2 linked regions of the Homo sapiens genome follow. The protein of the gene in region 2 purifies or fractionates together with the protein of the main gene of each other region. This does not show direct contact. Each region holds a gene or a part of one and is shown on either strand. Other genes may lie near its edges.

Region 1 (3,425 bases), on a different chromosome or scaffold from region 2:
GAACACTGTCCATTTCAACTAAGAAAAGGCTAAGTCCATTCTGGAGGAAAAAAATGACAGTGGGAATTGTAACTAATATTTAAATCACTTGGAAATAGGATTCATTTTATCACCAACCTACCAGGACCCTCTTTACTGTAAAGAGATAAAACACTAGTAAATGTATTGCATAAATATACCACAGACTATTATGAACAATTAAAGCACACTTTATATTTTTTAAAATTTCTCTGTAAACGTTCTAAGATAAATTATATTTGAATTTGATAAAGTCCTATTTTGAATCCCTTTGGGTTATAAAAGTCTATTCCCTAATTTATCTTGTGAAAATCCAGACTTCTGGCTTAAAATGGGATTTACTTTACTCTCTGAGAAAGGAATCCACCGTACTTTGATTTAGATAACCACATGGTCTGGAACTCCATTTAGTGAAAATTAAATTTTATGACTCATATAGCCAATGTTTTACCTCTGTTTTCTACATATTCACAGCAGGTGAAATGTGTTCAGGAATTTAAAGATGAAAACATATGTCTTTTAAGTAATGACCACCAAGAGCCACTGCAGATAGAAACAGCTTTATTTTTTCCATTCAGGCTTTATCAAATAGCTTGTTCAAAAAGCATATACAAGAGCAAAAAATACCACATGCAGTCAAACTTCTTTTGCCTTATAGTCATTGGCTTTCTTTTAGAAAAGAGTGTGCACTTGAATAACTTCTAATTCAAACATTTTCCAACTGTTTCTACTTCATTTTTCAAGTTAGCAACGACAGATACATTTTAGTTAACTGTTTCATATTCCTTATCTTTATTCATACTGAAATAATATAAAGCCTATAAAATCAAAGCATATACTGTTCAGAAATCTGGAAAGGTTCTTTTACATAATAGATTCTGACACGTTAAGAAACTACACACAACAAATATTTGCAAAATGAATGAAAAATAGGATAAAGCTATTTAAAAGTCAACATAGTAATATTTATCTAAATAATTTTAATCAAATGTACAACATATTTATCTGATATCATCTATCTTTTAGAATACAAAAAAGTGCTCAGATTACATTTAAAAAAATAACAAAAATCTCTTAGAATGGAAATAATTTAAATAAGGACGGTAGCAAGGGGAATTGAAATTACATCTTTGCTCCCAAAACAGGAAGGCAGGTGTGATGTATTTGAAAATCAGAAAGGGACACAACACTAAGATTGCAAATGCAAAGCTTCCTGCCTTGGAAAGATATAAACTGTCTTTGAAAAGTCCTTGTGTCTTTCTTTACAGAAAGTTACGAACATAAAATCAGATCTCTCAGCTAGACTGCTGGTCAAGTAACAAGGTGGGTCACTTTTCTTGACTATGCTTTTCTAGTCCACTATCAGTATTCACTCAGCTGGGGCTCAAAAGGACAAATAGGTGTCCTTTTAAGACACTTTGACTACTTGGATCAATACACTAGCTATTCTCAAACCAACATAATGCATGAATACAGCAGCCAAGTAGAAGGATCTCCAATGCTCAAGTCACTCTGAGTCTTTGCTGGTGTCAACCTACAATGCCACCCTCAAGGAAAGCACAGTGGTTCACAGACAGGGATGATTCATCATTTTCCTCTGAAAATGAATTCTGCAGGAAGAAACCAGAGTTGTGGTAAGATGTTGGAGTCAAGTTTTCTCTTCATCTGATATTCAAGGGTTGTGATCTTTATGAATACCATTTTACATGCTAATCACAAAGACAAATGGAGGGAAGATACAGTGATAACACCAAGTTGGACATTCAAATGCTAAGCGAGCCAAGTACCAGCCCTACCCTGCTTATTTTTAATAATGCAGAGATTACTTACTACACTTTCTGAAGCCTTATTTTGAAATTTATTTCACATTTCAGACATGTCCATAATTTACTGTTGAGGAAATAAAACAGCATGTAGAACATAATTCTATTTATATTAAAATTACATAGGTATGTGTGTATACATACATGACAGTTCTTTTCTCCTTCTGAGTATGGTAGGGTTGTAGATGATTTTTACTTTTTATTTATACTTCTTAATGTTCTAACTGCTTACAGTGTCACTTTTGTTATAATCATAAAATGAAGCTCTTTTCATTTTAGAGGAAAAAGAGAAAAAAGGCTCTATAGATTCTGAAGGCAGTTCCAAGTAAGTCTCTCAAATGCTCTTACGAGACTACTTTGCAGGTCAAAATCCCAGAAAAATGTAAAATCTTGTGATCAGAGAAAATGGCTTTGCTCACTACTCTAGCTCGGTTAGCAGAGTACGCAGCACCTTGGCAGGTGTGACACACACACTCTGAATGAAGAAATGCGGCTGACTTGGATGTTGAGTTTCTAGAGATTTCAGTTTTAAAATCATTGTTTTATGATCCTTTTTATTCTAGTTAGCTGAGGATATTTTCAAATTTTTGTCAAAATTCAGTACATTTTAGAGGAAAGTTTAAAATTAGCAACAGGATTCAAACTACCATGTTTTATAACATGGCTTTTAAGAAACGATGAACCAAAACAGAAAAATGGGCAAAGTGGGGACTAAAAACGGCTTGCTGGCCAAATAGCTGGTAGCAGAAGAGGGGATCAGCTGACAAAGAGGGCACAAGAAAATAACCCTCCTGTTTTTCATCCTGTTTCCCAGACAGCTCGACTATAGCTAAGAAGGGACATGTCTGACTGTCCTCCTGTACCCAGCACAGTGCCTGCCACCTTGACAGGTGGGCAAAGGACTCAGCAAAAGAAAGTGAGGGAAGGAGGGGGCTGGCCTCTGCTCTGAGTTACTAAGGGTGGCAGAAGCCACCCTGACTGTGACTCTCAAATCAAAGGACAAGAAATGGATTGTTCTAGCTCTTGTCCTGGAACAGAGGTCGGAATGATTCCTTCTTCAATGTGATTTGTGGCATAACTATGAAAGTAATCACATACTAATTTCCATTAATAACCAAAGACAAATGTCCTGAGTTGTAAGATAAAAAACTAGTGACTATTTATTTCCTTTGGATGAGACTTAGATCAAGGCAGGAACCAACATTTTTCTTTAAAAAAATTCAATTTCTTACATTTTTAGAAGTAAAGCAAATAATATAACTAGAGTAATTATGTATTTTATTGTCCAAACTGGGATATTTTTTAGAGTAAAAGGGAGTACTATATTCTAGGGGAAAAAACTATGCCAAGACAACAGACATGAACAGGACTGTCCTGAACAAATGGATACCTGATGCTAACACAAGCTCCATTTTAATGTTTTATTTTTTCAAGTTCTCTATTAAACTACATAACATTTGGCAGCAATTTCACATTGAACACTGAGTTGTAACAGCACAGTTTTGTTCTTGAGAAGACATATTTTCTAAGTGATGAAATGAACTTTCTACCTTCCCCATACTTAAGGTTTCCTAGCATAAGTTC
Region 2 (5,700 bases):
TTTAAAAAATCCTGATGCCCAAGTTGCACCCAAATCAATTAAGTCAGACTCACTGGGGCATCAAATTTTTAAAGCGCCCGAAGCGATTACAAATGTGCTGTCAAGTTTGAAAACCAGTGGTTCCCAAACTTTTAACTGCATGCGAATCAGCAAGCAGGCTTGTTAAAACACAGGTTGCTGGGCCCTACCCCTAGATTCAATAAGAGGGAGGCAAGGGTGTCCAAAACTTTGCACTTCTCATATTTATGCCAAGAATACTGTCAATGTTTGCTGTGGCTTGGATATGGTTTGTCCACACCAAACTCATATTGAGGCTTGGTCCCCAACGTAATGGTGTTGAAAGATGGTGAGACTTTTAAGAGGTATTTGGATAACAAGGGATCTGCCCTTGAAGAAATTAATGACATCTGGTGGGAGTGAGTGTTCCCTCTCCCAAGACTGGATTAGTTACCAAGAGAGGCGGTTGCTATAAAATAAGGCTGACTCTCCAGTATGGTATCTTTGCACATGCCCGCTTCCCGTTCTGCTTCTCCATCATGTTAGGACACAGCACGAGACCCTCACCATGGTCATAACATGAACTCCCCAGGCGCCAGACTCATGAGCCAAATTAACCTTTATTCTTGATAAATTATCCAGTCTCAGGTATTGTTACAGCAGCAGAACATGGACTAGGAGAAAGCGCAAAACAATGTTTAATTCCTTTCGGAGTTAGAATAGTTAACCATTTTTTGCACATGACAGGCATTAGCTGTCATGTTTTATAGATACTAGCTCATTTAATCATTTTCACAAGGCTGTTTCCTTCTCATCCTTCAGGTCTTAGAAAAAGTGCCAGAGCTCAGACTCCCTTAAAAAGTCACCTGACCCAGTTACTCTCTCCCACATCACCTGGTTTGTTTCCTTGGGGGCTCTAACTCATCTGTAATCTTGCTTCTGTCTCTTCTAGTTCCACTAAGTTTCCAAATGTAGAAACCGAATCTTCTTCCCCTAGTGCCTAGCATGTGACAGGTACTTCTTTGCCTAGTGCATAGCACATGACAGCTATTTTTCTAATTGCAGAATGAATGGGTTCACACAGCAACCCTGTCAAAGAGGTACTATGATCCAGATTTCACAAACCAGAATATAATTATTAAGTAACTTCTCGGAGATCACAGTGGAGGAACTAAGATTCAAATTGTCTTCTGACCAGAGCTGGGCTCTGAAACCACTCCAAGAATTGATCATCAGCCTTAAACAATCAGTTTTCTTTCCTTGTAATAAACTGAGTTACTCATCTAAGAATGTCAACTTTGTCTTACTACCACTTGACTCAGTTATTTTTTTCCCAAACAATAGAAATCCAGAGCCCAAACTGTAGAAATTGGCAATTTCCTTATTTAAAAACTACTGTCCATAACAAAAAGTCTATTAACAATACCCCAAAGCAGTTAAGATTTCTACCTCATATAAAATCATAAACATTTTAATTCAAAATGTTGACATTTAGAAGAAAAACTACATAAAAGCAAATGGATTTGAATTATCTGACTTTATTTAGCATGCAATGCAATTTATTCTGGCAATAAATTAATATGTGCAGTTATAAAAAATGTTGGGTACTTTTTCCAAGAAAAATGTTTCTGAATGTGCACACTAGAATATATGCAGAATCCTTTAAACAGTCGACTTCATATTTTAAACTTGTAAGTGTGGTAACATCAAGTTTTGGAAGAATGGACTTTTTCTGTAATTCATGATTTAGTTTGAGTTTATAAAGGTTTTAATTGCAATTTCAGTTCCTACAAGCTACCAAGCCTGAAATTAGAGAACTGACAGCTGAGAAAGGCAATCACCTGATCGAGTCTCCTAATTGTACAGCTGAAGAATCCAATGGCCTTGCCAAAGATTACGAAGCTAAAAAGAGACATAGCCTGGATTACAAGTCAGTTTTTATAGGTGCTCCAGGAATGTCTTGAGCTAAATAAGGCACACGTATCACACAGAACTTTAGTCGTATCTCAGAGTCCAGTTTTACTCTGCTTTCTCTTTATTTTTTAGGCATGAGGTCTTGCCCTGTCACACAGGCTGGAACGCAGTGGTGTGATCACAGCTCACCACAGCCTCAAACTCCTGGGCCCAAGCAATTTGCTCAAGGCCCCACACCTTGCTAATTAAAAGAAGATTTTTTAGAGACAGGGTCTTTCTATGTTGCCCAGGCTAGTCTTGAACTCCTGGCCTCACATGATCCTCCTGCCTTAGCTTCCTGAGTAGCTGGGATTACAGGCACGAGCCACTGCGCCTGGCTCTGGTTTTACCTTCTGCTTAACACAGGATTCAATCTTGATGTGTTCTCCTACAGTTCACAAACTTAGTGACTCAATTGCTTTAGAAACAAAGCAATAAATGATTTGATTTAGAAATAATTTGGTTTAGAAACAAAACCATTCCCATTATTGCAGCATTATCATCAGTCACTGACTGCTAATGCTTTTTATGCTTCTTTTTTCCTGGGATGTGTGAACCTGGCAACTTTTCTTCCTGTTCTTCTATGTTCTTAGCAAACCCACATCAAGGGTGTCTGTTCGTGTTTGAAACTCATCAGCATCAGAAAGAGCTAACATGTTGGCAGTATCTAGAAAACCATCAACATGATCATGGGACAGTTCATTTTGCTTTGCAGCTGATGCCACCATAGTGAGTGAGTACTCTGCTCTGTTCATCTGAGCAGTCACTTTGCTTTTGCAAAGCAGTTGTGGATTACTTCTGGGATGTCAGTGTCCCAAATGGCAATGAGATTTCTCATCACATCCAGAATATGCCACATAATGTACTGAGCATTTTCAGCTCGGTACATTATAATTTTTGGTAATTTATTGTCTCAGCCTAGTGGCTGCACACAGCCATGCTGCTGGCAGGTAAAAAAGGCTACTCACTTGTTTTAACGTCCAATGAATGTGTGCAGTACATTTACCAGTAACAGAACATTTACATTCTAGCAAGCTATTTTTCTAATTGCAGAAGCCATTCCTAAAACAACCTGACGGACATCACTGCATTAATAAATATTTTTTATTTATACACAGTAAAGTTGTGTATATAAAGGGAATTTTCAAATTTCCAATGTAAATGATTCTAATTTCTTGCTATGCTTAGTACTGCAGCAAAAGAAGGGTGATAGCCTATCTTTATATATTTCTTTTTCTCCAGGGCAACATTTCTCTGCAGGAGTGAATGTCTGGTTTGGCTGCATGTTATAGAGGCTTATTAAATATGCTCTCATGGGCATATTTATTCACAATAGGTCTCTCATTTTCAAGCTCATTCTCCGCTGTAGATGCTTTACCTTGTAGTAGTGACACAACACTGTGATATGCCAAAAGCACAGCTACCAGCCATGGAAATTTGACGTTAACCCCTACCTGGAATGCAATTTCATTAGCCTTATCAAAACACAAACAAAAACTCAGATACAGAAATATTACTTGCTCTGACCTGGCAAAGTCATTCAAACATTCCACTTACTACACTGGTATGCTTTGCTCCTCTCATTCTGTCACCAATTTCACTTCTTTTGGATGTTTTTCTTTTCATCTTGTCCTGACTTCCAAGGAATATGCAGAATATAAGAAAAGTCCTCATTCTTTCATCACTTCATTTTGGACTTTCTTTCTTGTTCACTAACTTTTAGCTCTGGAGACATTGTGACCTCACTGTATTTTCTCTTTAATACTATGACCAAACTCTCTGCATGAAGCATTACAGAAATGACACGCTGAACAGAACATGTCCATTCTAATGGGAAAACTGAGGAGACTGGCTTGGTATAGAAACTGGAAGTGTGGTACTGATGAAGCAACTAATTTTAAATTTAGAACAGCAAAGCTGATGTCATATTTCAAAGGAAGGGCTAATTTTAATAATCTTAATAACCAAGTCAAAAATACAATCTCTTTTTTATTAAGAAATCCTAATGACTGAGGTAGATGATGCTGTTGTCAGATACCGAAGTAATTTGGTTTAAGATATGAAAATGATGAAACCAAGGGAAAGAAAGCACTGTTTTGAAATTATCTTCTTTTAAATTTAGATGCATAATTAAGAATGCTTCCAATTTAAGGTTCTAAGCACAAAATCCAGATATGTCATGTTATGGACTTGCTTCCTGAAGATGATATCAGCAGTTGATAGAAAGAATCCACACTCTTACAGAACAGCAAATCATAAATGGTTGTCTCTGTGAAGCCAGTAGCTTTGCATTCGATATTTCTATCTGGGCTCATTCCAAATGTTCAGGATTTGGATTCCTGAAGGCTTCTTCAGCATTTAACTAATTCTTTGTTGGCTGAAGGGGCTGGGACTGTTTCTCCACACACAAACTGATCCTAAGACAGAGTGAGAAATGACATTAACCAATGAATTTCCGGTCACAAATACATTAATATTAAACCTTCATTTTGTTACAGCATCAATCCAGCGCTGTTAATTGTTTTTCATTTGCTATTATCATTTCATCCTTGTTCAAAGAGCCAATGACAGCACCAGAAGTAGAATCTTAAACATGTATCAGTTTTTTGATCTGAATTCATTATTTAATACAAAGCACCTTATAAACAAACATCCCTATCTTCAGTTCAGAGCAACCACTTCTCAGAAATCACATAAAGACATGCCACATATTTTAAATTTCTGTATTAATTACTACTTACACTAAAACTTCTCCACTTTAATATTTGGTCATTCAAATACCAGTCCTCTTCAAAGTAATTACTTCTTCTAACTAAAAGGGACAGGTCTTTATGTGGTTCCCAACATGGATAATCTGCTATGTTAGCTACTTTGTAAATGAAGTTCAATCTCTGGTCTTTTATCCTGGCTTATGTCAGCTACCACCAAAAATCTCTGCTTCCAAGGTTATCCCTCACCTCCAGCAATCTGATTCCCGAAGGATCAGCCCCTACTCTGTCCCTGCTACTCTGTTGCCCAATATGTGGAACCCTTTCACTGTGCCCTTTGGAATTCATGGTCCATTGTTAGCACAATGCTTCATATTCTCAACCTCTTTCTCAAAATGTCCTTTTATCCCCAAGAGCACTGGTAATATCTGGAAACAGTTTGAATTGAAACAACTGAGGATTGCTATTGGCATCTAGTAGGTAGAGGCCAGGGATCCTGCTAGACATCCTATAATGCACGGGGTATCTCTGAACAACAAAGAATTATCAGGCCTAAAATGTCAACAGGGCTGAGGTTGAGATGAAGTCATATTCTTAAGGACAGTTTCCCCTACAAGCCCATCTAGTGGAGGCTCTGTGTTCTCAGAGTCCTAGTACCAGAGGGATTGGAAGTGGGGCTAGTTCCTCCTTTTTGCCTCCATTCTCCTTTCCTGTCTAAAACCCATCAGTTTAGAATCTTATGTCTTGAGACTACCGCCTTGCTATTCTTCTCTGTTGCTGTCATTTATCCACCCTGGATGCCATATTCCAACCCCTCTGGACCTCCACCATATTCATCCTACCACCCTTTCACTGCCCCTCACTCCCTTCATGTTCTCTTTACCTAGTTCAAACTCCATGGTCAGTTATAACCACTCTTCTCTCACTCCTTACTATTCACTTGGGAAAACCTTAAACCTGGTTAAATCTAACTTTCCATGTCTATATTCACTAATGAAGGCTGAATTTCTACCACCTTAAACCCTCTCTTGATCCTCTATCA

The links.
Region 1: the proteins of DPH3 (region 2) and ATE1 purify together in Homo sapiens (affinity purification with mass spectrometry; 2 studies listed by BioGRID and IntAct, with this or other methods). This does not show direct contact.

The regions. Positions count from the first base shown.
Region 1 is NC_000010.11:121,739,862-121,743,286, forward strand, and holds the end of ATE1 (arginyl-tRNA--protein transferase 1), read right to left. Parts: 3' UTR 563-3,425; downstream 1-562. UniProt on the Homo sapiens protein: Involved in the post-translational conjugation of arginine to the N-terminal aspartate or glutamate of a protein. This arginylation is required for degradation of the protein via the ubiquitin pathway. Does not arginylate cysteine residues.
Region 2 is NC_000003.12:16,256,463-16,262,162, forward strand, and holds the end of DPH3 (diphthamide biosynthesis protein 3), read right to left. Parts: intron 4,368-5,700; coding exon 4,302-4,367; 3' UTR 599-4,301; downstream 1-598.